Linked DNA regions of Homo sapiens. The protein of the gene in region 3 purifies or fractionates together with the protein of the main gene of each other region. This does not show direct contact. Each region holds a gene or a part of one and is shown on either strand. Other genes may lie near its edges. The genes, in order: DDI2, SMARCAD1, ZNF480 and MRPS9.

Region 1 (8,513 bases), on a different chromosome or scaffold from region 3:
TCATAGGCTTATGTATTCTTTCAAGTCCTTCCCAAGGATAAAGATTATTGTATAATTATCACTGATAACAGAAGCTAACATTTATTGAGGGCTTGCTGTGTGCTAAGATTTTACATGCATTAGCCTCACGTCAGCTTTAGGAGTTGGGGTTAATTATGGCACCTAACTTATAGAAGAGGAAACCAATTTAGAGACATTAAAATACTTGTTCAAGGTTACACGGCAGGGAAAAGGCAGAGTCAGGATCTGTATTCTGTAGTCTGAATCCAAAGCGAATCCAAAACTCTGAGGTGCTATGCTCTGCTACCTGCTGATGGTTCTGCTGGGGGATGCTCAACCACCAGATGTCTTACTTGGGAACTGCACTGGAGGTCGAGGGTCTGCATTCTCCTTCTGTCGTAAAATCACAACGTCCCCATCTTTCAAGCCATAAGAAGCCAATGATCTGTGGTTGTCTGTGAGAGGTCTTTCCGCATAGACGATCTACAACAAGAAAAGATATACAACAGTATAAAGCACTGAGAAGTAACACAGCGCAAGGCAGAAGGACCAGTTTTCCCCTGAATCAGATGTCACCCTCCTTTCAAACCCTCCAGTGGATTCCCACCACATCCAGAACAAAACCCACAGTCCTTCCCGTCACCTAGCAGGACCAAACAATGTGGTCCCTGGCTCTCCTGACTTCGCCTTTCACTATGACTGCTGTTCCTCAAACAACAGGGATCAACTTCCCCTTCAGGGCTGTTTCTCTTGTTTTCTCTACCTGAGGAATGTTCTTTTTCCACTCATTTTTTTCCTTTTACGTCTCTGATCAAACATTACTCTTTAGAGTTCTTCCCTACTATGTTATTTAAAATGTACTCTCAACTAACACAATATATATTTACTTATTGTCCTTCTGCCCCATTAAATGTAAACTACTTGAGGACAAAGACTTTGTTTCATTCACGAGATCATAAATGCTTAGAACAGGGCCTGTTATATAACTGATGCTCAAATATTTGTTGAACTAAAGAATGAATGAATTTATGGAAATGGATATAATTTTAGATTTAATTTTTAGCAGGGAGGAAAAGGGAATGATTTATTCTGGGTATGCTAACTAACTACAGTACTATTAAATAAAGTGTGCACTTTGAAATAATCTTGAACACTGGCAAAAGGGTCCCAAATATCATCCTTCCTGCACTGCAATCTTCCTTCTCTTCTACCACCCCCAAAGTTTTATCACTCTGGGCCGGGCACGCTGGCTCACGCCTGTAATTCCAGCACTTTGGGAGGCCAAGGCGGGTGGATCACGAGGTCAGGGGTTCGAGACCAGCCTGGCCAACATGGTGAAACTCCGTCTCTACTAAAAATACAAAAATTAGCCCAGTGTCGTGGCACGTGCCTGTAATCCCAGCTACTCCAGAGGCTGTGGCAGGAGAATTGCTTAAACCCGGGAGGCAAAGGTTGCAGGGCTGAGATCGCACCACTGCACCCTAGCCTGGGCAAGCAAGATTCCATCTTGGTGGGGTGGTGGGAGGGGGGAGACTGGAAAATAAAGTGAAACTAAGAAAATAACAACTAAATACAAGTGGAAAAAAGAATTAGGAATGTACTACTAATAAAAATATTTTATGATGTGTAATCAAACTGAAAAAAACCTGACAGCACAAATAGATGAAATAATGTGTTGCAGATAGAAAGAACAAAGGTACACTATAATTTTATCATGAAAAAACATAAAATCTGCCCTGCATTATTACATACTCCAGAAAGGCATTCAGAACAAACTCAGGCTTTGAAAGGTTTTCCTCCTAATGATTTTTCACCAGGCCACATGCGAACTGAGGAACATGAGTTCTATCCTTGCCAGTAACTCCCTGCGAGGGGCATGACACTCAGCAGGTCCAGACCTCACCCTTCCCATGTGTCAAGCAAGCAGGTGGGCTAGATCATCATTACAGCTGTCCCTTCCAGTTCTCTCTGCTAACATTATCATTCTATGTTTCCTTACAGCTTTCATAGTAAGGTTACCTGAAATAAAAACTGAAAACACAGCATTTAAACTGGAAAAAAAGTGATTATGCCATATCTGCTCTCAGAATTTATAGACATGAGGAACAGAACAGGAAAATGAGTTCCTACCAAAATCAAATTCTTCTGAATATGAGCAAATTTGTAGGCCCAATTATACAAGTTTTATGCATGACTTGAAAAAAAATACTATTAAGTCCTTAATGCTCAACTCGCTGAGTTAAAACACATTTCAGATCTGGTATGATGGCTCATGCCTATAATCCTAGCACTTGGGGAGGCTGAGGTGTGAGCATCACTTAACCCATTTAGGCCAGAGGTTGCAAATTTTCTTTTGTGAAAAAATCATACCTTGGCAATGACCTTGAGTAGTAGGATATAACTCCCACAAGCTTAGCGTTCCATTGGAAGGCTAAGCACAAATGGGTTAAGCCCTGGAGTTTGAGACCAGCCTGGGCAACATAGTGAGACCGCATATCTAAAAAAAAAAAATTTTAAATAGCCAGCCATGGTAGCATGTGACTGTAGTCTCAGCTACTTAGGAGTCTGAGGCAGGAGGATTGCTTGAGCCCAGGAGGTCCAGGCTGTAGTGAGCTGCGGTTGCACCACTGCACTCCAGCCTGGGGCAACAGAGTAAGACCCTGTCTCTTAAAAAACAAAAACAAACAAAAAAAGAACCACATTTCAACAGACTGCAACTGTCACTCCCATCATCCCATTCACACACCCTCATTTAAACACAAATTTCACAGTAAAAGTACATCACCATCAACACAGAATTTCAGCAAAACAACTGAGAGTCATATTATAACTTGTGAGACTGCTTGGAAAAAACACATAAACCAGAAGTGATGAGCGTCACAGGTTGAGGTGTGCAACAAGAAAAAAGAGGTATGTCAAGAGAAATGGCAGGTAGGCAGGCTCTTACAGCATAGCATCAACACTGTGAAGCCACTGTCAACAACCTACTCTTTAATTTTCCAGTTTCAGAAATTCAACTATCAGTATATTTAGAGATACATGAACAGTCTCCTGGGAGCAGAGGCACATTTTAACGGTATTTATTTATTTATTTATTTTGAGACGGAGTCTCGCTCTCGCCCAGGCTGGGGTGCAGTGGCGGGATCTCGGCTCACTGTAAGCTCCGCCTCCCAGGTTCTCCTGCTTCAGCCTCCTGAGTAGCTGGGACTACAGGCACCTGCCCCCACAAGCGGCTAATTTTTTTTTTGTATTTTTTGTAGAGACGGGGTTTCACCATGTTAGCCAGGATGGTCTCGATCTCCTAACCTTGTGATCTGCCCGCCTTGGCCTCCTAAAGTGCTGGGATTACAGACGTGAGTCACTGCGCCCGGCCACTAACTATTTATAAGAGAAAATTTATTTATTTACAAGGAGGAAGCAAACTCAGGAGAATCAAAATGATCCTATGCAGGCTGGGTGCCATGGCTCACGCCTTAATTCCAAAACTTTGGGAGGATGAGGTAGGAAGATCATTTGAGGCCAGGAATGCAAAGCCAGCCTGGGCAATACAGCAAGACCCCATCTCTAAAATAATAATAATAATAATAATAATAAGCCAGGCATGGTAGCATATGCCTGTAGTCTCAACTATTTGGGAGACTGAAGCTGGAGGATCACCTGAGCCCAGGAGTTCGAGGTTGCAGTGAGTTATGATTGTACCACTGCACTCCAGCCTGGGCAACAGAATAAGATCTTGTCTCTTAAAAAAAAAAAAAAAAAAAAAAGAAGAAGAAAACTGCAATTGGAACTGTCTAATTTCAAAGCCCATTACTCCAGGAGTATCATATACAGCTTTCCCGAACATAACCCTAAAGTGGCCTGGTGAATTAGCTGGGTGATTTTAACAAGTACTACTAAGCCATCCATTGCCACTAAGAGACTCTATCCACTAAGAGGATCAAAATACTGTCCACTGCTCAACGCATCCCCATGCCCTGGACATGAAGAAACACCACCAACTGCCCGCTCTGACTCCCACTTCACAGATGCCATACTTCACTCCATCACTGCTTAGTTGCCACAATATTTCCTCAGCAGACAATAGCATTTTTTAAAGGAAGGCAGCATGATCTAACAATAAAAATGTAAAATCTAGATAACCACCACATTGAGCATGTCTATGAAATATGAAATGTTGCTTCAGCGCCAATTTCCTGGAAACACTAGACTGAAGAACCTGGGTGAGGCGCACACGTTCCTCACACTGACGAAGCAGCAGCTGTGCTCCATTTTAATCTAAGGACATAAATGAGATCAACTAAAGCTTAGCTAAAATTGTAATTGCCACAAAGAACTGATTTCTTTTTGTTTAAATAGGCTTAAGAGTCCAAGAAAGACAATTATTTTGCAGCAAAAGTCCCAAAATAAATCCATGTGATCTTCCAACCAAACATTCAGTATCTATTAGACATGGCTTCAAATCTCTACCAATAAAAACAAAAGGGGATCCGCTGCCGGCATTCTTGATCCTTCCACCATTCATGTTACCCAACTCAACAGCTACAAAGCCCAAAATTCAAGTTTTGCCAGTTATAAGAACATACAACAAGAAAATGTATACAGCTATGAGTCTTAATCAGCAAAACTGGCACAACTGCTGGTACTTACTCCAGAGGAGGCACCCCAGAGACTGAATTATAATCTTAATCAACATTTAACAATAGACTAATTAATAAAACTTCAGAACTTTTAAGCATGAGGTCAGGTGTTTTCTGGTCTCTGAATGAGAGCCTTCTATTAACAAAAAGCTTAACAATAAATTTCTAGCATTACAGAACATAAACTAGTAGGCCAGGTGCAGTGGCTCACACATGTAATCCCAACACTCTGGGAGGCAGAGGCAGGAGAACTGCTTGAGGTTAGGAGTTCAAGCCTAGCACTGGCAAGACCTCGTCTCAAAAAAAAAAAAAAAAAGTCGCAGCTACTTGGGAGGATCCCTTGACCCCAACATGTTGAGGATACAGTGAGCTGTGATTGCAACACTGCATTCCAGCCTGGGCGAGAGCGAGATCCCATCTCTAAAATATAAAGAATAAAGATAAAATAAGGACCATAAACCGGCCACAAAACATTTGGAATTACATCTGAATGGCTTCATAATAGTATTACCATTAATCAAATACCCAATATCTACCAAGTTATCTACATATACTACCCCATGTAATAGCCAATTTGACTTGTATAATCTAAATTTACTAAAAACCTTTCAAAGACTTTATGCTTTTGATCTGGCAACTGCATATCTAAGAATTCATCCTGAGAAAACAGAAATGGAGGCTACAGTCTTAAGTATATGGATGTTCATGGCATGTTACTTACAACTGCTTCCAATTTTCCCCAATATTATGCTCAACAAAAGGGAAATTGCTAAATTACAACACATCTATATGATGGTATATTATGTAGCCTTTAAAATTATCAATTTGGGGCCGGATGCGGTGGCTCACGCCTGTAATCCCAGCACTCTGGGAGGCCAAGGCAGGCAGATCATCCGAGGTCAGGAGTTTGAGACCAGCGTGGCCAACACAGTGAAACCCCCATCTCCAAAGAAAACAAAAAAATTAGTCATATGTCGTAGCATACACCTGTAGTCCCAGCTACTTAGGAGGCTGAGGTGGAAGGATCACTTGAGCCCAGGAGGTTGAGGCTACAGTGACCTGTGAGCGCACTACTGCCTAGGTGACAGAGCAAGACCCTGTCTCAAAAAAACAAACACACAGAAGATAAAATAGTGGTTTACAAACCACAAATCATGCTGTGTGCATTTCCAAGATCATACAATTACTGCTATTATTTGCCTTTCATTTGAGGGTCCTTGTATGTTGTGCCTACTTTTTCCATATGCCACCTACAGAGGTAAATTATCATGTCTCAAAAATATGAAGACATTAATTTAAAGTGAAGCTAAGTTCTGATAACTGTTTGAAGTTCACCCAGGCAAGTCTGCATCAAAGCATCAAACAGAGCCATGACTGGCTTCCAAGCCCACACTTCTATTAAGAGACAGAACATGCCCAGCTTTAATCACATGTACAAGCAGAGATGGCTTGTTCTAAATTTGTTATCACTGCATTGTAACTACTATCATCAGACTAGAGCTGTTAAAAATTAACACCTTTTCCAACTATATGCTTATGTGCAATTGACACTCAGGTGAAAGACTGAATTCTAAACCATTGATCACCAATGTAGGGCAGCCATGCAAGACAATTCTTTAACGGTGGAGGAAGAAACTGAAAATATTAGAATTTTCATTTCCATTTATTTTAGTTCGTCCTTCCTTAAGCTCCATTTTGTGTGTGTACAATGTTACTTTACAGATAACATATTATATATGCATATAATGCACGTTATGTGTATTATATGCACATGTGGCCATATATAATGTATACAACGTATCAGTTCATGTATATAATGTATTATATACATAACAGAAGCATAATCTGAAACATTTTACTGATAGGGATACATGAATGAAAGTTTGGACACCAGTGGTGTGGACACATAGTGGCAGGAAAAAATAGCCAGAACATAAAAATATATATATTTCCTTGAAGAAATGGAATCAGAAATGAGAGGTGAAGGAATGGGAATGGAGAATGTAAACAAGAGGAGGAGTTAAACAGTCTAGGAAAGGAAGGGAAGATGAGTAATATGAGAGAACCCTGGGAGGTAATGGGGGGGGACACTCAAGTAAGTAAACATGATATATTTATGGGTAAAAACTATAGTGATGTTTACTATTATGATTTGATGAAAGGAAATGACTCAAGTGTCTAGGGTGGATCCTGTTCCTGCCTGATGGGCAAGCAAGCAAGTGAAAGACAACCGACCACCAGACACCTTAAAATAGATACTGTGTTGTCAGGTTACAATGGAGCCAACAGAACAGACTGGAAAAACAGGAGCTGTTTATGGCTATCTAATACAGGCTTAACACCAGTTGGAGCCCAAGTTTCTATATGCTAATTTGGCTTGGGAAGGAAGTAAATGCCGAAACATTGACATAATGAACAAGAAATAATTTGGAGTTAGCCTATGTTCAATTACTAAGGTATTCCTAACTTTACCAACTGGCAGAGGGCAATGTCTGGCTGACCACACAATAAATCGTCTTTTATGATGGCTGTAACAAGAAATTTAAGTCAATTAAAGGGGGTGTCAGGTATCCCTTTGACTTAAATTTCTTGTTTCAGCCATCACAAAAAGTGCAGGAATGGAAACAACCTCAACCTCTGTCTTTTCCCAAGCCCTAACAACAAAATCAATTTACATTTTAATTTCTTATTTTCCCTACCAGCCGGTGATCATAACCAGGGTAATATAACAGCTAGAGGAAAAAACAATTGAAAAAGCCACTATCGGGCCGGGTGCGGTGGCTCACAGCACTTTGGAAGGCCGAGGCGGGCAGACCACGAGGTCAGGAGATCGAGACCATCCTGGCTAACATGGTGAAACCCCTTCTCTACTAAAAATACAAAAAATGAGTCGGGCGCGGTGGTGGGCGCCTGTAGTCCCAGCTACTCGGGAGGCTGAGGCAGGAGAATGGCACGAACCCGGGAGGTGGAGCTTGCAGTAAGCCGAGATCGCGCCACTGCACTCCAGCCTAGGCGACAGAGACTCCGTCTCGAAAAAAAAAAAAGAAAAGAAAAGAAAAGAAAAAGCCACTATCAAAAATTGAAGAGTTGTCCGGGAACGGTGGCTCACACCTGTAATCGCAGCATTTTGGGAGGCCGAGGCGGGCAGATCACTAGAGGTCAGGAGTTTGAAATCAGCCTGGTCAACATGGTGAAACCCCGTCTCTACTAAAAAAAAATTACAAAAATTAGCCAGGCGTGGTGGCGCGCGCCCGTAGTCCCAGTTACTCAGGAGGCTGAGGCAGGAGAATCGCTTGAACCCGGGAGACTGGGGTTGCAGTGAGTCGAGAACGCACCACTGCACTCCAGCATGGGCGACAGAGCAAGACTCCGTCTCAAAAACAAAAACAAAAAAAGAAAAAAAATTGAAGAGTTTATTTTCTCTATTTAAACAGTCCTTTCCTAGTTCTCCACATGAGGCATTCACTGACAGAACTGGTTCCTGAGCTTTTGTGGATTAACTTTTTAAATTCTTTCTGAACAGCTTTATGCCAAGGTTCTAAAGTTCACATTGTGTAAAGGAATCATACTTCTGAACAAAGTATTGACACGTGTTTACCATAAGACAGCAGAACAAGCTGCAGTTGGGCAATCGTTTTGTAAACTATTTCATAACTGCAGTAGAAAATCAAGATTTACTTGATGGAGACTTGGGAGACCTCTATAATTTTCTTAATGTTTAGACTATTTCCTCCAGGCTAAATTTATTAAGTCATGATCTAAGTGTTTTAGTGTAAAGTTTACAGCGTTAGTGTCACCGATTCTGTTTGATAAAGACTAGGGGCAGCCCCAAAGCATTTTGAGAATTACTTTGCTTAGTTAAAATATGAGAGGCTG
Region 2 (8,513 bases), on a different chromosome or scaffold from region 3:
CCTCAAAATATTGATCATCTACTGTGAGCTAGACATTGAGCAAGGTGCCTAAAGACAACCTCTGTACACAAGGGAAGATCAGATCACATCAAGTTCTTGCATCCACCTGACTTCCTGGATGTCCTCAGAATGCAAATGAGTAATTGGTATTCTTCATGGTGAATGAACATTTTTAACCTCATCAGCAGATTGTCAGAGACAAAAGTATTTGAGGATAAGCCAAAAATTAAGATTTCCACTCGAATCTATGTTCATTGAACAGTTAACTATTAGAGGAATATATTTGAGCTCTTGTTGTATTATAGGAATAGTGATAAGTGCTTCACCTTCTGTCATTTAATTTGCACAATAATCCTACAAGGTAGATATTACTGACATAGAGGTTAATGTGAAATGAGATTCAGAGAGGTTATTAGGAACTTGGTAGAGCCTGAACTCAAGTCCTGGCAGTATGATTCCTGAGCATAAACTAATTAGTTAGTTTCTTAGGAAAGGTGAAAGGAATGTTGGAAGTTATATTTTAATATTTATTTCAGTAATATCTTTTTTTATGCAAAACTCTGTTTCGTAAACAGCTTTTAACTTAATGTAGCCTGAAAGATTGGTAACACACATGTTTATCCTTGGTATCTTTTTGTTTGCCACCCTTCTACTTAAATGTAATAATGATGGCAGATCCTCTGCAAGTTATCATTAGAATAACATTTTTAAATACTTTGGTGTAATTGGAAATTGGCAGAATGATTTGGTAGATTGGATTAGGAGTCAGATTTACAAAGGCTTTGTCTAAGTAGTTTTGAATTTAAATGCTATAGGGAACAACTGAAGGATTTTAAGCACCAGGATTTTAATCCCTGTGTTCACTCTTTGAATAGATATTTGACATCCAGGTATTTTAATGCTTTTCCAATGAATATATTTGTCTGTTTCCTCTGTAGTTAGATAGTTCAGGAAAGCCAAGGTGTAGACATGGGATTTCGAGTCCATAGAAGCTTCTGCTTCTTCATTTTTGTTAAATGTGGGACATTAGACAAGTCATTTGAAATCTGTGATCCACACTTTTTTCATCTCTGAAAGTGAAAGCAGTTTGTAAACTGGATTTCAGTGGAATGTTTTAGTTATTTATCAGTATTGGTCATGTGAAATCTTTAATTTCCTTTAGTGATCAGAAGATATTTTTCTGTTTTTATTTCTTTCTAATGATAACACTCATTTTCTCTTTATTGGGACTTTTTTCCATACATAAATTCTGCTTAAAAACTGAGATTGCTTTAGGAATTACATGATCAGCCTTGATGGCTTCGGGAAATAAGAAAACTAAGTTTGTTCTAGGAATGTTGAGAATTAATCCTTGTAGGAATGGAGCACTTTGCTTTAATAAAAGATTGTTTTAAATGATACTGTGAATTTTGGAGAATCTTGAAAACTGAGAAGTTTAGATTTTACATTGTAAGTATTAGATATCCATTGAAGAACTTACAGAGTGAATGGAAAATGGTGAAAGAAAGTTTTAAAAGTCAGTTTAGCAGTAGTGACTAGTACACACTGATTGAGGGTAGGGATTGAAGGGAAAGAAAACATTTAGGCAACTCCTGTAATTGAGCTTAATGATAGCGGTAGAAATGGAGAAGAAAGAGATATGAGAGGTTTCAAAGTAATGAAGGGCAGGGTTTAGATCCCTGATGGGAATGAGATAAGATGAATGGTAAGATTTTTATGCGCGGTGGCTGAAGCCTGTAATCCCAGCACTTTGGGATGCAAAGGTGGGCAAATCACCTGAGATCACAAGACCAGCCTGGCCAACATAGTGAAACCCCGTCTCTACTAAAAATACAAAAATTAGCCAGGCATGGTGGAGCGTGCCTGTAATCCCTGCTGCTCAGGAGGCTGAGGCACAAGAATTGCTTGAACCTGGGAGGCAGAGGTTGCAGTGAGCCTAGATCACACCACTGCACTCCAGCCTGGGGGACAGAGACTGTATCTCAAAAAAAAAAAAAAAAAAAAAGGTAAATGTCTTTAAGAATTCAAATAAGAATCGAAGGTCTGGCTGGGCACAGTGGATCACCCCTGTAATCCCAGCACTTTGGGAGGCTGAGGCGGGCTGATCAGCTGAGGTTGGAAGTTCAAGACCAGCCTGACCAACATGGAGAAACCCCGTTTCTACTAAAAATATAAAATTAGCTGGGCATGGTGGTACATGCCTGTAATCCCAGCTACTCGGGAGGCTGAAGCAGGAGAATCACTTGAACCCTGGAGGTGGAGGTTGCAGTGAGCCGAGATTGTGCCATTGCACTCCAGCCTGGGCAACAAGAGCAAAACTCCATGTCAAAATAAATAAATAAATAAGAATAAAAATCAAAGGTCCTGCCCCCAAGTGCTAATTTAGCCTGGGGTCTAGGGATTGCTGAGGAAGTGGGGATTCAGAATTGAGTGTTGGATCTCTGGAGAGGACAAGATACTGAAGTTAGATTTTAAGGTCAGGACTGGAGATGAAAATTGGTGAATTATAAATAGGATGTGACTATTGACCTTACTTCTTTATCATGTGGTAACTTTTCATACTCCCATTGTGGGATAATGCTGCGTTAGTTTATTTACAGTAAAGTGTCAGGTCAAACTAAGTCAGCTTACAGGACAGAAATTGTATGTAGTCAAAATTACCTGTAATCACTCTTTTTGACTAATCCTGTTATTTTATCTAGTGAGTTGACTTCATTTCCTATGACCCTCCTTCAGTTACTGTGCCACCACCACATTGTTTCTTGAATCTTTCAAGCAAGGTCCCATCTTTGCTTCTTCCAATTTGCTTTTTTGCCTGGAAGACTCTTCCTGCTGATATTTGCATATGACTCAGATGCTTTGTTTCATTAAATCTCAGTAAAATGTCACCTTTTTAAGAAGACCTTCCTTGATCACCCTGTGAAATAGCCACCCACCCCAGCCCACCCTACCCCAGCTTTACTGTTATTTTTCTTCATAGTATTTATCACTAGCTAACCTTTCATTATGTAGTTGTGTATCACTAGCTAACATTACATTATATAGTTGTGACTCCCTTGTTAGAACATATGATTCATGAGAGCAGGACCTTATCTGTTGTGTTCACCTATTTATCTCCATTGTTCAGGGCAACGACTGGCTTGTCGTAGGCCCTCAATAAGTGCATTGAAGTAAATATTATTGCATGATGAGTGGGCATTATTAGTACTTTATACATTTTTTAAAATTTATTTATTATTTATTTGTTTTTAGACAATCTCACTGTGTGGCCCAGGCTAGAGTGCAGTGGCAGAATCTTGGCTCACTGCAACCTCTACCTCCTGGGTTCAAGTGATTCTCATACCTCAGCCTCCCGAGGAGCTGCGACTACAGGCTCATGCCACCATGCCCGGCTAATTTTTGTATTTTCTGTAGAGACGGCATTTCGCTATGTTGACCAGGCTAGTGTCAAACTCCTGACGTCAAGTGATCCACGTGCCTTGGCCTCTGAAAGTGCTAGGATTATAGGCATGAGCCACCACGCCCAGCCCTATACATATTTATTTATTATTATTTTTTTGAGATGGAGTCTTGCTCTGTTACCTAGGCTGGAGTGCAGTGGCACAATCTCGGCTCACTGCAACCTCTGCCTCCTGGGTTCAAGCAATTCTCCTGCCTCAGCCTCCCAAGTAGCTGAGACTACAGGTGCACACCACCACAGCCGGCTAATTTTTGTATTTTTAGTAGAGACAGGGTTTCACCATGTTAGCCAGGCTAGTCTCAAACTCCTGACTTCAGGCTATCTGCCTGCCTTGGCCTCCCAAAGTGCTGGGATTACAGACATGAGCCACCACACCTTTATTTTAAAATAGGACCTTAAAATAGTCCCTTTAGCCATCAGGTGTTCTTTGGCCATGGTTGCTTGAAGCTTCTTTTGGTACAGGACATCCTCCCTAATGCCCCTCTAAATCCCAGCCAGCCTTTGGATTTGAGGGCATACACTTAACCTCTGCCCCCTGATTTATTTTACTCTTCTCGGTGCCCAAAGTTGTCAATGATTGTTATTTACACATTATTTCTCCTTTTTTTCTTTGACTTTTGGGAGTACAGTGAGTTTGGAGGGATTGAAATAATGGCAGGTGAAAGGGAAGAGAGATCCTACTATATTTTATGAATAAAGAATAAAAATGAGTGAAGCCTGATCCTCCAAGAGCACCAGGAGAAAATGGTATGTAAATATATAGTTAAAATAGTATGGTGTGATAAAACCATATAATAGGGCAAAATACTAAGCAAAGTAGAATCACTATCTGTAATTCACAAATGATTGAATTATCCATTCTTCAGGGGAGGATCACAAAAAGTCACAGAGATATGACCTTTGGAGTGGACTCTAAACAATGAAATCATTGTTTACTGGGTGAACAAATGATGAGAGAGTTGAAAATATATGTTGCCTCCAAGAGTCTAATATGTGTGTGGAGGGTTGGGGGCAGATTATAGAACAGGAGGTTTTAGACAATATAGATGAAACTGAAAAGATAGAAGTGTAAACCATTGGGTTGTGAGGGGCCTTTATATCCTGTGTCAGGGACGGTAGATCTTATTTGGTACACATCATAGAGCATTTCATTATGGAAATGCTATTAGTGAAGCTGTTGTATTCATTGAAGCCTCAATGTAGGGAAATGACTGTAGAGATGACAGAGGAGGCAACTGAGGGGAGTTGTAAATGATACGCATTTGATGATATTAGGTGATCAGTTGAATGTGGAGGATTTACAGATAACTCAAATGTTCCTTGCTTGGACAGCTGGAGGATTGACACCATGGACTGAATTAAGAGGTGAGTTTAGGAGAAAGATACTAAAAATTATGTTGTGTTTGCATTACCCATCCTATTTTAGTACCAAGGTAGTAGATGGTTGAATATTAGAGCTCAGAGAGTGGTCTAAACCCTAGAACTTGGGACTCATCAATGTCCTAAGCAGGGTGTACAATAAAAAACATCATTTGACAATGGGCAGGAAAACCAATGAAAAATTTGAAGGATGACTAGAATAGTCATAGAAAATGATAGTGTCCTGGATACCTAAATACCTAGTTTGGTATTTAGTTGTCTAGTAACAAATCCTGTAGAGAAGTCAAGTTGAGTGGGGACTGATCAGTGACCAGTTTCCTTGGAATTAAAAGTAACTACTAACCTTTAACAGTTTCAGTAGAATGGTGATGAGATAGAGATTATTCATTCAGGAAAGGAAAGAGAGAAATAGGTAACCTGATTGGGAAGTAATGTCAAGAAAATATGTTTCAGGATTATTGAAAATTGAGCGTTCTTTTGTTTTTTTTTTTTTTTTTGAGACAGTTTCACTCTGTCACCCAGGCTGGAGTGCAGTGGCGCAATCTCAACTCACTGCAATCTCTGCTCTCGGGTTCATGCCATTCTTCTGCTTCAGCCTCCTGAGTAGCTGGGACTACAGGTGCCCGCCACCACGCCGGGCTAATTTTTTTTTTTTGTATTTTTAGTAGAGACCCGGTTTCACCGTATTAGCCAGGATGGTCTCAATCTCCTGACTTGAGATCTGCCCGCCTCGGCCTCCTAAAGTGCTGGGATTACAGGCATGAGCCACCGCACCTGGCCAAGCGTTTGTTAACCAAGGACAAGAAGCTAGTGGAGAGGGAAGGACTGAGGGAGGGAGGTATCTGAAGAGAGGCATCAAGTGATGAGAACTGAAGAACAGTTGGACTGTTTAACTGTGCAAAAGAATAAAGACATATTTTCCCTGGGGGGGATAATTGAAGGAGATAAAAATAGATGGGTTCATAGATTATTTTGGCATTGGCGGAATGGAGGAAAGTTTTAGTATATGTTTGATGAATTTTTTTTTTTTTGCTGAAATAGATTTAGTCCTCTAGAGTGGTTGCCTTTTCAAGGTGGTTGTCATATTGAAAGTAGCACTTGTTGATAAGTGAGAGACATTTTTAAAACTATACCAGTCGTCAGAAAGATTTCCTGAGAGTATTGCTCTGCCACATACAGATTGTATGATCTTGAGTAAAAAGTCAACTGTTTGGGTCTTACAGTCTTCTCCTGGCTTTGCTTAGTTTTCTGTATTCCTTGCCCACATTAAAATGGTTATTATCCTTTGAATGATGATACTGAATGTATCATTTTAGCTTCATAATTCCGTGACCATTGCGCAATACTCAGTCTTTTTGTAGGTGTCTGTGGCCAAAATGTGAGCCATCGTTAAACCTGTAGATAGTCATTGTGGTTTCTTAATGTCTGTTAATGTTAATTGAAAAGCAATACTTAGTTAAAGGGTTAGTGCTGAATTGTTGTAACAGAAAGTACAATAAGTACTCAAAAGTAAGTAGGAATCTTAAGTGCATTTTAAATGTGCATGTATTTGGCTGGGCACAGTGGCTCATGCCTGTAGAGTCGCAGCACTTTGGGAGGCCGAGGCAGGAGGATTGCTTGAGACCAGGAGTTCAAGACCAGCTTGGGCAATGTAGTGAGACCCTGTCTCTACAAAAAATGAAAAAATTAGTCAGGTGTGGTGGTGTGCACCTGTAGTCCTAGCCACTTGGGAGGTTGAGACAGAAGAATTGATTGAGCCCAGGAGTTTGAGGTTATGGTAAGCTGTGATCACTACACTACATTCCAGCCTGGGCAACAGAGTGAGATTCTGTCCCAAAAAGGGGGGTGGGGGGGAGGAGGGGGATAGAAATATTATTTTAGTCATTGTCACTTCACCCTACACACAAATTTCACTAGTTTGTATCAGACTACATCTTGGTTTTGATGTCTGCTTTTTCATACCTGTCTAAAATATTGCAGACCTTTATTATCTTTAATAAGCTAATAGGCAAAAGTATGTTATTGTTGCTTTTTCTTTATTTTTTAGTTTAAGTATGTTTTCATAAATTTACTAGCCATTTGGATTTTTTGTGTTTCTTTATGCTTTTCTGTTTTTCTAATACATGTCTCTCCGATAAATTATTTGTAAGTATATCTTAAATTCCACGTGTCTTAGTCTGTTAGAACTGCTGTAACTACCATGAACCGGGTAGCTTATAAGCAATAGAAATCTACTCTTGGCAATTCTGGAGGCTGGGAAGTCCAAAATCAAGGTGCTGCAAGATTAGGTATCTCAGGGCCCTATTCCTAGACCACAATCTTTTAACCCCATGTGGCTGAATGAGTGAGGGGTCTCTTGGGCCTCTTTTATAAGGGCACTAATCCCATTCATGAGTGCTCTGCCCCCATCACCTAATACCCCTTCCTCCCTCCAGCAAATGTCACCTCCTAATACCATTACCATAATGGTTAAGATTTCAACATACCGTTTTGGGGAGTGGGGCACAAACAGACCATAGCACCCCCTTTGTTGTTTGCCATAGAAAAATTTTAGATTTTTATGTGGTCACCTTGTTCATCCTTTCCTCTAAGTCTTCTGCATTCCGCATTACCACACTATAAATATACTCATTCATATTTTCCTCTAGTATGTCTGTTAATTTTAAAAATTATGATAAAATACACATAAGAAAATTTACCATCTCAACCATTTTTAAGTGTACAGTTCAGTACATTCAGTTCAATACATATACATTGTCATGCAACTATTCTCCAGCACTCTTTTCATCTTGTGAAACTGAAACTCTTTATGCATTGAACAACTACTCCTCATTTCTGATTCCCCCAGCCCCCGGCAACTACCGTTTACGTTGTCTTTTTATGAATTTGACTATTCTAAGTATCTCATTAAAGTGGAATCATCACTTAGCATAACATCCCCAGGATCCATCCATGTTGTAGCATATATCAGAATTTCCTTCCTTTTTAAGACTGAATAATATTTCACTGTGTGTATATACACATTTTGTTTATCCATTCATCCATCAATGGGCACTTGGATTGCCTCCACATCTTGGCTGTTTGAATTGTATTGCAGTAAACATGAATGTGTAAATATTCTCTTTGAAACCCTGCTTTCAGTTCTTTTGGTTGTATACCCAGAAGTGGTATTGCTGGATCATATAGTAATTCTATTTTTAATTTTTTGCGGAACCTCCATACCGTTTTCCATAGGTGCTCCACCATTTTACATTTCTGCCAACAGTGTGGTGGGTTCCAGTTTCTCCACATCCTCTCCAACCTTGTTATTTCCTGTGTTTTTGATAATAGCCAACATAATGGACATGAGTTTGTATCTCACTTTGGGTTTCGTGTTGATTTTTAACTTTAAATCTCCTCTGAATTTTATTTCATTATAGGGACTAAAGAAAGGGTGATATCGTTTTCTCCTTTGTTCATTATTCACCAGTTACTAGTCAGTTTTTCATTTATTGAAAAATCCTTTTTCTTACATTAAAATGTCATCATTATAGTCTAAAATTCCCATGTTTGTTTGCATCTTTGGGTCTGTTAATCTGTTCCTCTAATCTTAATTTACCAGATTATTTTAATTTTTATAGTGTCATATATATGATGTATCCTAGATTTTGATGTGTTTTTGTTGTTGTTGTTT
Region 3 (7,640 bases):
TCTCCACTAAAAATACAAAAATTAGCTGAGCATGTTGGCCGGCACCTGTAGTCCCAGTTACTCGGGAGGCTGAGGCAGGATAATTGCTTGAACCTGGAGGTGGAGGTTGCAGTGAGCTGAGATTGCATCATTGTACTCCAGCCTGGGCAACAAGAGCAAAACTCCATCTTAAAAACAAACAAAAGAAATAACAAAAAACCCCAAAACTTGCTGAATGTGGTGGTGCATGCCTGTAGACCCAGCTACTCAGGAGGCTGAAGCAGGAGAGATCGCTTGAGCTGGGGAAGTAGATGCTGCAGTGAGCTACACTATACCACTGCACTCCAGCCTGGACGATAGAGTGAGACCCTGTCTTAAATAAATAAATAAATAAATATTTGTCTAGTAATTTAGAGAGCTGCCTGTCTTTTTCTAGGTTTGGCTTTATTTATTTTTTAGCCATATTTCTCTTTCCTTTCATAGGCCTTGTAATTTTTGGATTAGGTTTGGTAAAATAACTGCTTCTCTCAGTTGTTTTGTATAAGACTTGGTCAGAGGGAGATCTTTTCTAATTAGCCTGTTGTAAAGGGTGTGGGAACACTCACTCCTTTTCTGGGGATGTGCCTTTCCTAGCTTTGTGCATGTACTGTTATTATGTATACTGCTTCTCTTGAGTGTCTTATTTTCCCTAGAGACTTGTCCCTTCTTTTTCTCAGAAGGTTTCAATTCCTGTTCTATCTCTCTACTCATAATCCCTCTCAAACTCACCTGTAATCCTCCTGACTCCTACAGATTTCCCAGAACTCCAGTGCATCACCTTACCCTTTTCTATTTTCAGCACAACCAGCGTGATGTACAAAGTGTGCTGATATTTCTTCCAATGTCTGAGTCAGATGAGGCAGATTCTAGTATTTTCATCAGACTCTAAACATGCCAGAATTATGGGGTCTGAATTTTACTTTTTTCTTGCTTTCCTAGGGAGCAGCTATGCATTGGGAAGCAATGCAGAAGACAAACCAATTAAAAAACAACTTGGAGTATCCTTTCACTTACATCTGTCTGAACTGGAGCTATTTCCAGATGAAAGGGTAATAAATGGATGTAATCAAGTTGAAAACTTTATCAACCACAGTTCCTCTGTTTCCTGTCTTCAAGAAATGTCTTCCAGTGTCAAAACCCCCATTTTTAATAGGAATGATTTTGATGATTCTTCATTTCTCCCACAAGAACAGAAAGTACACCTTAGAGAAAAACCTTATGAATGTAATGAGCATAGCAAAGTCTTTAGAGTATCTTCCAGCCTTACTAAACATCAAGTAATCCATACTGTAGAGAAACCTTACAAATGTAATTCATGCGGCAAGGTCTTTAGTCGCAATTCACACCTTGCAGAACATTGTAGAATTCATACTGGAGAGAAACCTTACAAATGTAATGTCTGTGGCAAGGTTTTTAGTTACAATTCAAACTTTGCACGACATCAAAGAATTCATACCAGAGAGAAGCCGTATGAATGTAATGAATGTGGTAAAGTCTTCAGTAATAATTCTTACCTTGCACGACATCAAAGAATTCATGCTGAAGAGAAACCTTACAAATGTAATGAATGTGGTAAAGGCTTCAGTCATAAGTCATCTCTAGCAAATCATTGGAGAATTTATACTGGAGAGAAGCCTTACAAATGTGATGAATGTGGCAAGGCCTTCTATAGGATTGCGCTCCTTGTACGACATCAGAAAATTCATACTGGAGAGAAACCTTACAAATGTAATGAATGTGGAAAGGTCTTTATTCAAAATTCGCACCTAGCACAACATTGGAGAATTCATACAGGAGAGAAACCTTACAAATGTAATGAATGTGGAAAAGTATTTAATCAACTTTCAAATCTTGCACGACATCGAAGAATTCATACTGGAGAGAAGCCTTACAAATGTAATGAATGTGGTAAAGCATTTAGTGAGTATTCAGGCCTTTCAGCCCATCTTGTAATCCACACTGGAGAGAAGCCTTACAAATGTAGTGAATGTGGCAAGGCATTCAGACACAAGTTATCACTAACCAATCATCAGAGAATCCATACTGGAGAAAGACCTTACAAATGTAATGAATGTGGCAAGGTCTTCAATCGAATTGCACACCTTGCACGACATCGGAAAATTCATACTGGAGAGAAACCTTACAAATGTAATGAGTGTGGCAAGGCCTTTAGTCGCATTTCATACCTAGCACAACATTGGACAATTCATATGGGATAGAAACTACAAATGCAACAAATGCGTCAAAGAATTTAGTGTGCACTCAAGCCTTACTACCCATCTTTTATTCCATACTGCAAAGAAATTTTGCAAATGTAAAGAATATGACAAGGTCTTCAAACACAAGTTTTTCTAATAACTCATTAGAGAATTTATACTGGAGAGACTTCACAATTATAATAAATGTGTGGAAAAGTCTTCAAAAAAATTTCACACCTTGCAAAAGGAGATCTAAAAAACACAATCAGAAATGACAAAGGGGACATTACCACCAACCCCACAGAAATACGAAAAACCCTCAAAGATTACTATAAACACCTGTATGCACACAAACTAGAAAACCTAGAAAAAATTAATAAATTCCTTGAAAGATATAACCCCCCAAGATTGAACCAAGAAGAAATTGCATCCCTGAACAGACCAATAATGAGTTCCAAAATTTAATCACTAATTAAAAATCTATCAAACAAAACTCTGGACCAGACAGATTTATAGTTGAAGCCTACGAGATGTATAAAGAAAAGCTGTTACCAATCTTACTGAAACTGTTCAAAAACATGGATGCAGAGGGACTCCTCCCTATCTGATTCTATGAGGCCAGCATCATTCTAATACCAAAACCTGACAGGCACAATGAAAAAAGAAAACTTCAGGCTGGTACTCCTGACGAATATAGGTGCCAAAATCCTCAGCAAAATACTAGTAAACCAAATCCATCTGCACATCAAAAAGCTAATCCAACATTATCAAGCAGGCTTTAGTGTTGGGCTGCAAGGTTGGTTCAGTATACACAAATCAATAAATGTGATTTATCACATACACAGAACTAAAAACAAAAACCACATGACCATGATCATCTCTTTAGATGCAGAAAGGTTTTTAATAAAATTCAACATCCCTTCATTTTAAAAACCCTCAACAAATTACACATTGAGGGAACATACTTCAATAAGAACCATCTATGCTGGACTCACAGCCAAATTAATACTGAACAAGCAAAAGCTGGAAGCATTCCCCTTGAGAACTGGAAAATGACAGGGATGACCACTCTCACCACTCCGATTCAACATAGTACTGGAAGTCCTAAGCTTAGTGATCAGGCAAGATAAAGATATGAAAGGCATATATAAATAGGAAGAGGGGAAGTCAGTTTCTCTTGCAGAAGATATAATTCTGTATTTAGAAAACCTGTTGTCTCTGCCCAAAGGCTCCTAGATCTGATAAACAACTTCAAAAAAGTTTCAGGATACAAAATCTGTGTACAAAAATTAGTTGCATTTCTATACACCAGTAATGTCCAAGCTATGAACCAAATCAAGAATGGAATCCCATTCACAGTAGCCACAAAAAGTATAAAATACCTAGGAATACAGCCAACCAGGTAAGTGAAAGATTTCTACAATGAGAATTACAAAGCAGTGCACAAAGAAATCAGAAACAATAAAAATTGAAAAATATCTCATGCTCATGGATAGGAAGAATCAGTATTGTTAAAATACTGCCCAAAGCAATTTACAGAGCCAATGCTATTTCTATCAAACTACCAATGGCATTTTTCACAGAATCAGAAGAAAACATTCTGAAATTTATTTGGAACCAGAAAAGCCCAACCTAAATAGCAAAAGCAATCCTAAGCAAAAAGAGCAATGTTTGAGGTATCACACTACCCAACTTTAAACCATACTACAAGGCTACAGCAACTAAAACAGCATGGTACTGGTATAAAAAAAGACACATAGATCAATGGAATAGGTAAGAGAACCCAGAAATAAAGGCATATACCTACAACCATGTGATCCTCAACAAAACTGACAAGCAATGAAGTAAGAACTTCATTCAATAAGTGGTGCTGGCATAACTGGCTAGCCATATGCAGGATATTGAAACTGGACCCCTATCCTTCACGATATACAAAAATCAACTCAAGATGGATTAAAGACTTAAATATAAAACCTAAAAGTATTAAATTCCTAGAAGAAAACCCAGGAAATGCCATTCTGGACATAAGTGCTGGAAAAGACTTAATGATGAACACCCCAAAGCAATTGCAACAAAAACAAAAATTGACAAGTGGGACCTAATTAAACTAAATAACTTCTGCACAGCAAAAGAAGCTATTTGCAGACTACAGAATGGGAGAAAATGTTTACAAACTGCATCTGACAAAGATCTAATCCAGAATCTATAAAGAACTCAAACAAATCAACAATGAGAAAAACAACCCCATTAAAAACTGGGCAAAGGCCATGAATAGACCTTTCTCAAAAGAATACATACATGTGGCAATAAGCATATGAAAAAAATGGTTAATATCGCTAATCATTAAGGAAATGCAATCAAAGCCACAATGAGATACCATCTCAGACCTGTCTGAATGGGTATTATCAGAATGGGTATTATTAAAAAATCAAAACATAGATGCTAGTGAGGCTGCAGAGAAAAGCAAATACTTATACACTGCTGGTGGGAATGTAAATTAATTCAGCCATTGTGGAAAGCACTGCAGCGATTTCTCAAAGACATAAAAGAACATAGCATTCAACCCAGCATCCCATTACTGGGTGTATACCTAAAGGAATATAATCATTCCACCATAAAGACAAACACTTGTATGTTCATTGCAGCACTATTCTCAATAGCAAAGATGTGGAATCAACGTAAATGCCCATCAGCAGTAGACCAGATAAAGAAAATTTGGTACATATACACCATGGAATACTATGCAGCCATAAAAAAGAACAAGACTGTGTCCTTTACAGCAACATAGATGGAGCTGAGGCTCTTATCCTAAGTGAATTAATGCAGGAACAGAAAATGAAATATCCCATGTTCTCACTTATAAGTGGGAGCTAAACATTGATTACACATGGACTCAAAGAAGGGAACAGTAGACACGGGCTTATGGGTGGAGGTTGGGAAGAGGATGAAGATTGAATAACTGCCTGTTGGGTACTATGCTGATTACCTGGGGACAAAATTAACTGTACACCAAACTCCTGCAACATGCAGTTGACCCATGTACACATACTCCTTGAACCTAAAATAAAACATGAAAAAAAGCAAATTTCACACCTTGTAAAACATCAAGGAATTTATATTGCAAAGAAACCTTACAAATGTATGTAGCAAAGCATTTAGTGTGCCTTCAAGTCTTAATATTCATCAGGTAATCTGTAATGCAGAGAAACCTTACAGTTGTAATGGATATGGGGCTGGGCATAGTGGCTCACTCCTGTAATCCCAGCACATTGGGAGACCAAGGTAGGTGGATCACCTGAGGTCAGGAGCTCAAGACCAGCCTGGCCACCATGGTGAAAACCTGTCTCTACTAAAAATACAAAAATCAGTTGGGCATGGTGGCATGCACCTGTAATCCCAGCTACTCAGGAGGCTGAGGCAGGAGAATCACTTGAACCTGGGAGGCAGAGGCTGCAGTGAGTAGAGATGAAGCCACTGCACTCCAATCTGGGCGACAGAGTGAGACTCTGTCTCAAAAAACAAACAAAAAAGATGTGGCAAGGTCTTTACTCAGAATTCAAACCTTGCAAATCATCACAGAATCCATGCTGGAGAGCAACCTTACAAATGCAACATGCGTGGTAAGGTCTTTAATCAGAATTCACACCTTCCACAGCATCAGATAATTCATTCACGAGAGTCCTTATAGAGTATGGAAAACTCTTCATTATGAGTTCTTATATTAATCAGCGCCAGAGTGTCGTACTAGAGAGAAATCATATAAATGTATGTGACACAGGCTTTATCCAGCCCCACCAAGTCACTGGACGTCAACACATACATCTTTGAGGAAACCATAGGCTGGGCGCAGTGGCTCACACTTGTAATCCCAGCACTTTGGGAGGCCAAGGTGGGCGGATCACTTGAGGTCAGGAGTTCAAGACCAACCTGGCCAACATGGTGAAACCCCATCTCTACTAAAAACACAAAAATTAGCTGGGCATGGTGGAATGCACCTGCAATCCTAGCTACTGGGGAGGCTGAGGCAGGATAATCACTTGAACCCAGGAGGTGGAAGTTGCAGTGAGCTGAGATTGGGCCATTGCACTCCAGCCTGGGAAACAGAGTGGGACTCTGTCTCGGGAAAAAACAAAACAAAACCATAAAGATGGATTGTGGATTGTGGATGCAAAGGGTATTAATCAAGGACCATAACTATTGAACATGAGAGCACTGAGCATTTACAGAAGAAATAACTCAGTCTCTAGTACTTCCGTATTAATATATGACATAGCATGTTGCAGAAAAATTACAAGCCAAAAGATACCAAGCCTCATGATGCAAGGGTATGTGGAAATTGCGATTTTTATTCAGGTTATTAAAATATTTAATTCCTTGGGAGTTTTGGAAAGGCTACTTTACTCTTTATGACTTTCAGCCTAAACTTAAAACTCTCATTATGTGCTTTTCCTACAGGCCTTTCACTGTGGTCTCTGGGAAAGAATCAACAGCATGACAGGGCTGATTTTATTAGCTGGGGAGCATTTCTATCCAGTTTCCTGGAAGAAGGACATTGCCTTTTCAGGTTAAATATTGTTTGATTTAGACAGCATGGAGGTGAGCAGAGAATAACAAAACTATGTATCAGTCATCCTACTTACTGTGTTCAGCAAACCTTTTTCCTGACAGGCACAGTGCTATAAACCTGTACAGCAGGTTACACTACTGAATACTGTAGGCAATTGTAGTAAAATGGAAAGTATTTCTGTGTCTAAACATAGAAAAGTTACCATAAGAATACCATATGAGGCCGAGCGTGGTGGCTAATGCCTATAATCCCAGCACTTTTGGAGGCTGAGGTGGGCAGATCACCTGAGGTTGGGAGTTCAAGACCAGCCTGACCAACGTGGAGAAACCCTGTCTCTGCTAAAAGTACAAAATTAGCCAGGCATGGTGGTGCCTGCCTGTAATCCCAGCTACTCGGGAGGCTGAGGCAGGAGAATTGCTTGAACCTGGGAGGTGGAGGCTGTGGTGAGCCAAGATCACCCCACATTAAATACCATATAAAAGAAACAAAGTGCACCTATATAGGGCACTTACCATGAGTGGAGCTTCCAGAACTGGAAGTTACTCTGGGTGAGACAGTGAGGAGTAGTGAGTGAATGTAGAGGCCTAGGACACACTCCACACTACTGTAGGCTTTAGAAACACTGTACACAGCTGGGCACGGTGGCTCACGCCTGTAATCCCAACTCTTTGGGAGGCCGAGATGGCTGGATCACAAGGTCAGGAGTTTGAGACCAGCCTGACCAACATGGTGAAACCTTGTGAACACTAAGATTACAAAAAAATTAGCCGGGTGTGGCGGCGCATGCCTGTTATCTCAGATATTCAGGAGGCTGAGGTGAGAGAATCACTTGAATCCAGAAGGCGGAGGTTGCAGTG
Region 4 (8,405 bases), on a different chromosome or scaffold from region 3:
TTCAGAGGAATGTGATTATATATATTGAGCAAGCAAAGAAACCTAGCATTTATGGGTTAAAATAAGAACTCATCAGGCTTTGCTTAGTTCTGGGTGCTAAATATGGCAGTTTTAATTTTTAAACTTTGTATCCTATGGAGAAATAGACATTAATCATAAATAGATACTACAGCTCTTCTAATCTAAATATACTCATCTCAGAACTCTCTCTGACTTGCTATATAAAGGCCTCTTCTTGATATGGTTATTATTTTCCCAGTACTTACTGTCATTATCCACGAGTAACAGAAGTTTGGTATGATTAGTTCCTCCTTTCCTAATCCTTCTCCTGTTTCCTGCATGTGTTACGGTATTTAAGGTCAAAAGGGCTAAAACTCTTTTGATACCAATGCTGATATAGGCAAAAGAGGACCCTCCTAATACAGTGTAAGCTTCTGGACACAATAATTATTTTAGGAAATGTGTGTTTATTTTATTTGTGTGTGCCTGTGTCAACAAGCAGTGCATTCTTAACTCCATTTAAGATGAATTAGTTCTGCTATTATCCTCACAGGACAGGGGATGGAAGAAGCTTTTATTTCCCTTAGGAAAAGCCAGAGAGAAACCCATACCCCAGGGTTTGATAACTTCAACATTGGGAACTATAGGAGGACTGTTCTTTAACCAATAACCTGTCTGTTGATTTGTATTCAGACATAACTCCTGATGATTTAACAGCAAGTCTCAATTCTGGCTTGATCTCATAATGAAATTACATCTTTAGATCTTATTCTTTGGTTTGAATTCAGCAGCTTTTTACTAAGGACATCTATGTCTCCAGTCTTGTTCTGGGCATTGTGAAGATATCAGAGATATTTAAGATATGATTCCTATTGTCAAGAAACTTCCTACATGGTTGGGAAGCCTAAGCCTAGTCTTGGTGGGAATGGGCACCTACAACTATTTTAAAGTAGTTGTAAGGATTTAGGGCAGTCACTTCAGGAACTTACAAATCAGCAGTGAGGTGACCATTGACTAATAGGAAGACTAACCAACCCAGAATCAGGGATCTTGATCGGAATTCTGTCATCACCTAACACACAGTGAAGTGGGTTAGCCACGTAAGTGAAGTTACAAGGGAGGCTTCTGGACAGCCATTTGTTTGGGAGCTTAAACACTTTCCTGGCTTAATTTTTAAAATTTTATGATTCTTTAACAAATGCTTATATAAATAAAAAGAGACTTCAATTAAAATCTAGAAAAATAGATTTCATAATGTAATTACTGGATATATAACTGAGTCATGGAGCCAGATGGTCGAGGTAAATGCAATAGTGGAATTAGATTTTCAGTCTGTACATTTTTTTTTTCTTTTTTTTTTTTTTTTGAGATGGAGTTTCGCTCTTGTTGCCCAGGCTGGAGTACAGTGGTGCAATCTTGGCTCACCACAACCTCCGCCTCCTGGGTTCAAGCAATTCTCCTGCCTCAGCCTCCTGAGTAGCTGGGATTACAGGCATGCACCACCATGCCTGGCTAGTTTTGTATTTTTAGTAGAGACGGCGTTTCTCCATGTTGGTCAGACTGGTCTCAAACTCCCGACCTCAGGTGATCTGCCCGCCTCGGCCTCCCAAAGTGCTGGGATTACAGGCATGAGCCACTGCGCCCAGCCTAAATTTTCTTTTATATTTACTTTTTTTTTTTAAGAGACAAGGTCTCTTTATGTCACCCAGGCTGGACTCAAACTTCTGGACCCAGACTGGACTCAAGCTGCTGGGCTCAAGCAGTCCTCCCACCTCAGCCTCCTGAGTAGCTTGTACTTTAGGTGCTCAGCTTAAATTTTCTTTAGTTATCATAGTATATTAATAGATACTACTTATAATACTGTTTTTATAACTTATGGCTACTTTTCATTTGGTTTCTTGGAAGCATTTGTTCAAAAAGACAGTATAGATTTATGAGTTTTTTGTTGTTGTAGGAGTTATGTCATCCCTACATCGTATTGTTATAAATTCCGATTTGCTATGGCTTTTGAAAGTCATCTTTTGCCCATCTGCTTGTGATTATTTTACTAGTGTGGTATGAAGAATAGCACTTGAATGTCCTGTCCATACCTGTCTCTCAGCTTAACTGTGTTATATAAACTTGATTTTGGGTCTAGAAGCTACAGCATCAAAGAAAGCAAACGCAATATAAGTGAGCTTTTCTGCATAAAAGTGTAGCAAGATATTAAGGCAAAATAGCAAAATCAAAGTGCTTGACAGAGGTAATGGTGAACATCTTACCTGGCGTGAAAATGATATTCAACAAATACTTGTTCAGTTGAGCAGGAGAAAGTCCAGGGCCGTGTTTTGTCTGTGGTGCCTGCCCCAGGATCTTGTAGGCCCTGACCGACCCTGAAAGAGCAGGCCTGACAGGGGTTGTGTAGAATGTCACCTGGCCCCAGGAAGGTAGCAGGACCCTATGATTTAGAGAACTTTAAGAATATTGGGAATAGGTGTTTGGTGTCAGGGAAGTGCAAGGTCGAAAATAGTTTTAGAAACTTTAAAAACTAACCATATCAAGATGAGCATTATACATTATACAGATACACTTATAGTAGACTTTATTTAGTGAATCCAAATGACATGTGATAATTGTTTGGAAAGGCCTATTGATTTTATATCTGATCATTCAATCCAGAGACATTAAATTCAGTTGATTAATGGAGTTCCCCAACTGTAAGACTTCTTTACGAGATTATTTTCAAGCTTTGAAAAGATCTTCTGAGATAAAGGGGATCAGCAAACAGTAAGAGTGTGTTGCTATACCCAAGCAAAAGAAATAAATCTTAATCTCTCAGCAAATCATTCAAAATGTCAGAAATGTTAGTGTTTCTATATCTTGGTAAAATGGATTGATTGAGAAGTATGAAAAGTATAACAGTGGCATGCAGAATATTGTTTTTATGAATATTCAGAATTTCAGTTGTTTACATAATTATGTATCTTTATAGTAAACGTAACCACATTTACTTGTGCTGTGCTTTAGAGAACAGCTGATGTTCCCTTTCCACTTTGTTGACCGGCTGGGAAAGCACGACGTGACCTGCACAGTCTCAGGGGGCGGGAGGTCAGCGCAGGCTGGAGCAATACGACTGGCAATGGCAAAAGCCTTGTGCAGCTTTGTCACCGAGGACGAGGTCGAGTGGATGAGACAAGGTATGAGTCTAGGTGGGACGGGCATGGTGGCCCAATACTGGCTATACATGTTCATCTGCTTCTTGTCCTAGTGCCTGAAGTTCGTAAGAAAATATATAGTTACATATGTAATATTTCACTTCGCTGTCTTCTTTCTTGCTACAGAACCATAACAGTATTTCTCAGATTTGATTTCTACAAGGTGAGCTTGAATTAGAAAAAGGGGAGAACTCCCCACACTGATTATTTGAGCCCTGCTAAAATGTTCAGTTCCAAGGTCAGGGAAAAGTTAATTTTGGCCTTAATGCATAACCTTTTATCCAGCTTAACAAAGTGCTTAGCTTAGTTATATTTAAGAGACAAATTGCTTGTTTTTGTTTTATCATAGAAATGTGTGGGTTTTTTGTTTTTGTTTTTTAAACAGTCTCTCTCTGTCAGCCAGGCTGGAGTGCAGTGGTATTATCATAGCTAGCTGCAGCCTTAAACTTCTGGGCTCGAGCAATCCTCCTGCCTCGGCCTCCCAGGTAGTTAGGACTATGACATACACTCCCAAACCTGGATAATTTTTGTATATTTTGTAGAGACTGCATTTTGCTATGTTGCCCAGGCTGTTCTCGAACTCCTGGCCTCAAACAATCCTGCCTTGGCCTCCCAAAGCACTGACATTACGTAGCATGAGCTACCACACCTGGCCTGTCATAGAAATTTGTAATAATTATTTGGTTAGTGATAAAGTTCTTTGGGTATTTTGTTTTTGTAAGTTATTGGAGGTTTCCATTTTTTCCCATTGTGGTGTTTGAATTTTCTTTTACCCTACTCTGTGTAACCCTGTTACCTGGGCATGAATACAAGAGTCCCTGTGTAATGTGAAAAAGGATGGGCAGTTGATTCTTACCTTAGACTACTGCTTTAGAAGTTGGAATAAATTGGGGAAGTTTGAGCTGAAGACCATCTTCGCACTGTTGATGAGAAGAGGAAAGCACCATGTGTGCTATTGGCGGCTGCATGGTCGTGGGCAAGTCACTTAGCACCTAAGTCTATAAGCTCCTCCTCTGGGCAAGTAGGTTGGTCTCTGTGCACCAGACCTTCTAGTACAAGCCGCTGAGGTTCAATAAAAACACTACCTATGGCTTAGGCTACTTAATTGCTTAAGGCTCTTAAAAATCCATTTGCTTATAAGCAATTTGTCATCATATGGGATTCATATCTAGTCATTGAAGTAATTTGCTAGAATCTTAACAATTTGATGAGTTTGAGCTACTGTGCATATCTGAAAGTAATAAAGCATTCTTACTTACAGTTGAAGCTAGAACTTAGGTCTTTTCTGTATTTTGTCAAATACTGCTGTTTTATTCCATGCATGTCCTTTAAGTACAAGCAAGTGTAAATGTTATGGGTATATCATAAACAAGGTTTTCCTTTGCTCTATGTACATTAAATGGTCCTTAATAAAATACCCAAGCCTTGTATACAGTAGGAGGAGTGCTAACGTTGGAAGAGTGAAAAAGACAAGGAAAAAGTATGGTCCATTTACATATTTATAAAAGCAATGTAAGAGCTTTCCCATCAGTGGTATTCTTGGAATCTATGGTCTTTACTAACTTACTATAGCTCCAGCCACTGCTGGGGCTCTTCCTTATGGGCCATAGCTAAGAGTAACCCCAGCAGTTGCCTAGAAACATAATCACTCCTGATGATTGGGAGAATGAAAGTTTCCCGTTTAAACTGACTTTATTCTTCTAGAAGAAACTGCCTGTGCTGAGAATACAACTCTAAAACTTATTTTTTAGATTCTAAAACAAAAAAACAGGGAATATTATTATGGCATAAATTAAAATAATGAAAGTTTCCTTTTTTAAATGTTTGACAAGTCATATTTGTGTGTATATGCATATTCATGTAAACTGTTAATAGATGGTATCTAAGTACTTTCTCATACTTCACCTTTACAGTAAGTTTTTCTTCTCTGCCTCTTGTCTCCATTAAAACTCTGTCCTCTGCAATAGTAAGTGTGCAGGTTAAGTTCCCTTACAGTGAATAGTGACCGCCCACACAAGAGGAGCTTTATCTCACTTAGGTTGAGCAAGCTTAAAAACCAAAAGGGAGCCATGATTCTTATAATTTAAGGGAAGCAGGTTTAAATAATGTAACTTGTGTTTGTCTCAGAGGTTGGAAAAATATCCTGAAAGAGTGGAAGCAAACTGCCATCATGAGGTTGATACTGGGCTGGTAAATTATTACTGGTCTGGTTGCTTTCCTCTAGTTTTTTTTCTCAGACAACAGTACCTATAAATTTATGAACCTGCTTTTCTTCTGGGCAGCATGCATATTAATGGTTCCTAAAGGCTTCTCTTTTTATGCTGCAGCTGGACTACTTACTACTGATCCACGTGTGAGGGAACGGAAGAAGCCAGGCCAAGAGGGAGCCCGCAGAAAGTTTACGTGGAAGAAACGCTAAGGGTTTGCTCCCAGGAAAGGAGAGGAAGAGCTATATATATGTGCCGACATGTGGCAGACACACAGTAAATAATGGCTGACCAGCATGAGGGCAGTACTGTCAGAAATTTCTTTGAGCTGTGAGATGGATTTATTTTTAAATGCTACTTTGTAAAGGTGACCTTTAAAAAATAAAAGGAAAATAAAGAATGTTAGTTTCATTCTGCCGCTTTATTTTTTTAACTTTTTCAGAATATAGTTTTAAGAAGCATAATTCATAGAATCTGGCATATTAGACCTGAAAGGAATATTCAGCAAAATATAGTCAAGTTACCTCATTTTGCAGACAAGAAGGCTTAGCCCCCCAGATTAAGCAACCAACCAGAGCCATACTGTTGGTACTTTCAATGCTAGAGCTAGACTCATTTCCCCTGATTCTGTTGCTTCCCCACTTGGCAATTGTCACCACGTATTTTTCAAAATGAGAAGTGAGAGTGCTTGCTCAGAAGAATGAAGTAACTTGAGTCGGTCAGGAGCTCAGCAGAGCCAGGGAGCTGAGCTGCCAGGTGTGGGAGGTGCTGGTATACACAACAGCCAAGTGAAAGGCACAGTCAAGCCTGTCTGTGCTCACTCGCTGCAGGAATACGAGCAAGGCTGCGGCAAAGAAGGCACCCCTGCCCCCTATTTTGGATCAGTTTTGTTTTGGGGGTATTTAAAAATCTTTTTATTGTGTATTTTTAAGGTATGCATCAGGATGTTTTGATATACATTTACAGAGTGAAGTGATTACTGCAGTCAAGCAAATCAGCGTAGCTCTCATATAGTTTCCCAGGTGTGGGTGTGTGGAAAGAGCATCTAAGGTCTCTTCTCATTTCCAGCATACAATACAGTATGATTCACTGTTGTCCTCATGTTGTACGTTAGGTCTCTAGACTTACTCATCCTATGTAACTGCAGCTTCGTACCTTTTGACCTGCATCTCACGTTCCTCCACCCCCTACCCCCAGTGATTACATTCTACTCTGTGCTTCTATACATTTGACTTTTAAGACCCCACAGCTAAGTGAGATCTTGCACTACTTATCTTTCTGTTCCTGGCTTACTTCATAGTATCCTCTAGGTTCATCCACGTTGTGGCAAATGGCAGGATCTCCTTTTTCAAGGTTGAATAATATTCCATTGTGTTTATATATGCCACAGTTTCTTTATTGAAACAATTGTGGATTCCATTTTGGATCAGCACAGATATGGAGAAAAGTGGCTTCAAGCTTCCCTTCCCCAGGAAGTCTCAGCTGAGGAGCCTGAGGGAGGACTTGCATGAAAGGAACAGATCCCTCTGAATGAAGGCACCCAGCCAGGAGTGCACATAGCTCTGGAAGAGCACGGGCTGCGGGGAGGTGGGCTGAGTCCTTGACTGTGGCCCCCAGGACCTGTCATGCACTGGCTGTGCACAAGTCAGGTGTGGGGAGTGTAGCTTGCCCCCGTGAGGCCCACCAGGCAGTCTTTATGATTGACCATGGTTTGGCATGAAAGATCACACATAGGTGTTTGGCCAGGAGTGAGACTCTTCAGTCATAGCTAAGCGTTCAATTGAGTTTTGCTCTAGGATTTCTAAAGTACCTTAAAATGAAGAAACTTTGGCATTTTAACTCTAATGCAATTGTGCAGTAGGTTTTTGAGGGAGGAAAGGGGCAGTTGGTAACAGGGGTACTTTAAAACCCATTTTAAGCCAGGTGTGGTGGCTCACGCCTGTAATCCCAGCACTTTGGGAGGCTGAGGCAGGTGGATCACTTGAGGCCAGGAGTTTGAGACCAGCCTGGCCAACATGGTGAAACCCCATCTCTACCAAAAAATACAAAAATTAGCCGGGTGTGGTGGCATGCGCCAATAGTGCCAGCTACTCGGGAGGCTGAGGTGGGAGAATCGCTGGAACCCAGGAGGCAGAGGCTGCAGTAAGTCGAGATTGTGCCACTGCACTCCAGCCTGGGTAACAGTCAGATCCTGTCTCAAAAAAAAAAAAAAAAAATCCATTTCAATGCAGTTATTTTAAGTAAAAATATTGCTTCAAGAATTAGACCCTCAATGCTCAATTATCCTTTATATAAAGAGTTGTATGCCACTGATTTCTTCATAAGTGTCTTTTTAAAATAATCTTGAATAAGTTCTGAGACATGTATATACACATCAAATCCTTTATGAGGTAAAATAAAATAACATGGTGATGAACAAGTGAGAGTGAGTACCCAGTACCCTGCGGTACCCAGTGCCCTTTTCATTTCAGATGAAACTGTAGAAAATACTTTCTGGGGTTTTTTCTGTGTGGCGGTCATTCTCTAGTGAAATTGTCTGTGGCAGGTTTTGGTCGGTGGTGTTGATTTAGCCTGTATCTGTTGGAGTATACTTTTTACCATTTTGACAAGAGAGAAGTGACAAGTGGTTACCCCACGTGGCGTGGGTGTGCTGAGATGGGATGGCGGGCAGCCCTGCCGGCACGGATCGCCCGCTTGCTGAGCTCTTGCCATACCTGGTGTCCTGGGGCAGTGCAGAGCTGCCTGAAGTATATGCCATCTGGCCCTGCATCAGCTACTGTTGGTATCGTGGAGGAGACAAAGTCCTCAAGTCTAACGGGAGACCTGGAGTGCTGCTCGTACAGTGCCAGGAGGAGAGCTGAGGAAGGGGGCCCTGAGGACAGTAGCACTCTGAGGAGGAGGTGGTGGGGAAAAAAGAGGCCATGAAAGGAGAGGGTGGGAGTACAGATGGAGAAAATGGCGAGAAAGGAGGAAGGAAAGTTCAGGAAATGTGCAGGGAGTGAAG

What was found.
Region 1: the proteins of ZNF480 (region 3) and DDI2 purify together in Homo sapiens (co-immunoprecipitation; one large-scale study listed by IntAct). This does not show direct contact.
Region 2: the proteins of ZNF480 (region 3) and SMARCAD1 purify together in Homo sapiens (co-immunoprecipitation; one large-scale study listed by IntAct). This does not show direct contact.
Region 4: the proteins of ZNF480 (region 3) and MRPS9 purify together in Homo sapiens (co-immunoprecipitation; one large-scale study listed by IntAct). This does not show direct contact.

Annotation. Positions count from the first base shown.
Region 1 is NC_000001.11:15,618,639-15,627,151, reverse strand, and holds part of DDI2 (protein DDI1 homolog 2), read right to left. Parts: intron 484-8,513; coding exon 354-483; intron 1-353. UniProt on the Homo sapiens protein: Aspartic protease that mediates the cleavage of NFE2L1/NRF1 at 'Leu-104', thereby promoting release of NFE2L1/NRF1 from the endoplasmic reticulum membrane.
Region 2 is NC_000004.12:94,208,946-94,217,458, forward strand, and holds part of SMARCAD1 (SWI/SNF-related matrix-associated actin-dependent regulator of chromatin subfamily A containing DEAD/H box 1), read left to right. Parts: intron 1-4,089; exon of another isoform or gene 4,090-4,207; intron 4,208-4,792; exon of another isoform or gene 4,793-4,825; intron 4,826-8,513. UniProt on the Homo sapiens protein: DNA helicase that possesses intrinsic ATP-dependent nucleosome-remodeling activity and is both required for DNA repair and heterochromatin organization.
Region 3 is NC_000019.10:52,320,622-52,328,261, forward strand, and holds the end of ZNF480 (zinc finger protein 480), read left to right. Parts: intron 1-957; coding exon 958-2,237; 3' UTR 2,238-5,301; downstream 5,302-7,640.
Region 4 is NC_000002.12:105,094,149-105,102,553, forward strand, and holds the end of MRPS9 (small ribosomal subunit protein uS9m), read left to right. Parts: intron 1-2,903; exon of another isoform or gene 2,904-3,006; coding exon 3,007-3,176; exon of another isoform or gene 3,177-3,250; intron 3,251-4,050; exon of another isoform or gene 4,051-4,114; intron 4,115-5,099; exon of another isoform or gene 5,100-5,152; intron 5,153-5,521; coding exon 5,522-5,613; 3' UTR 5,614-5,812; downstream 5,813-8,405.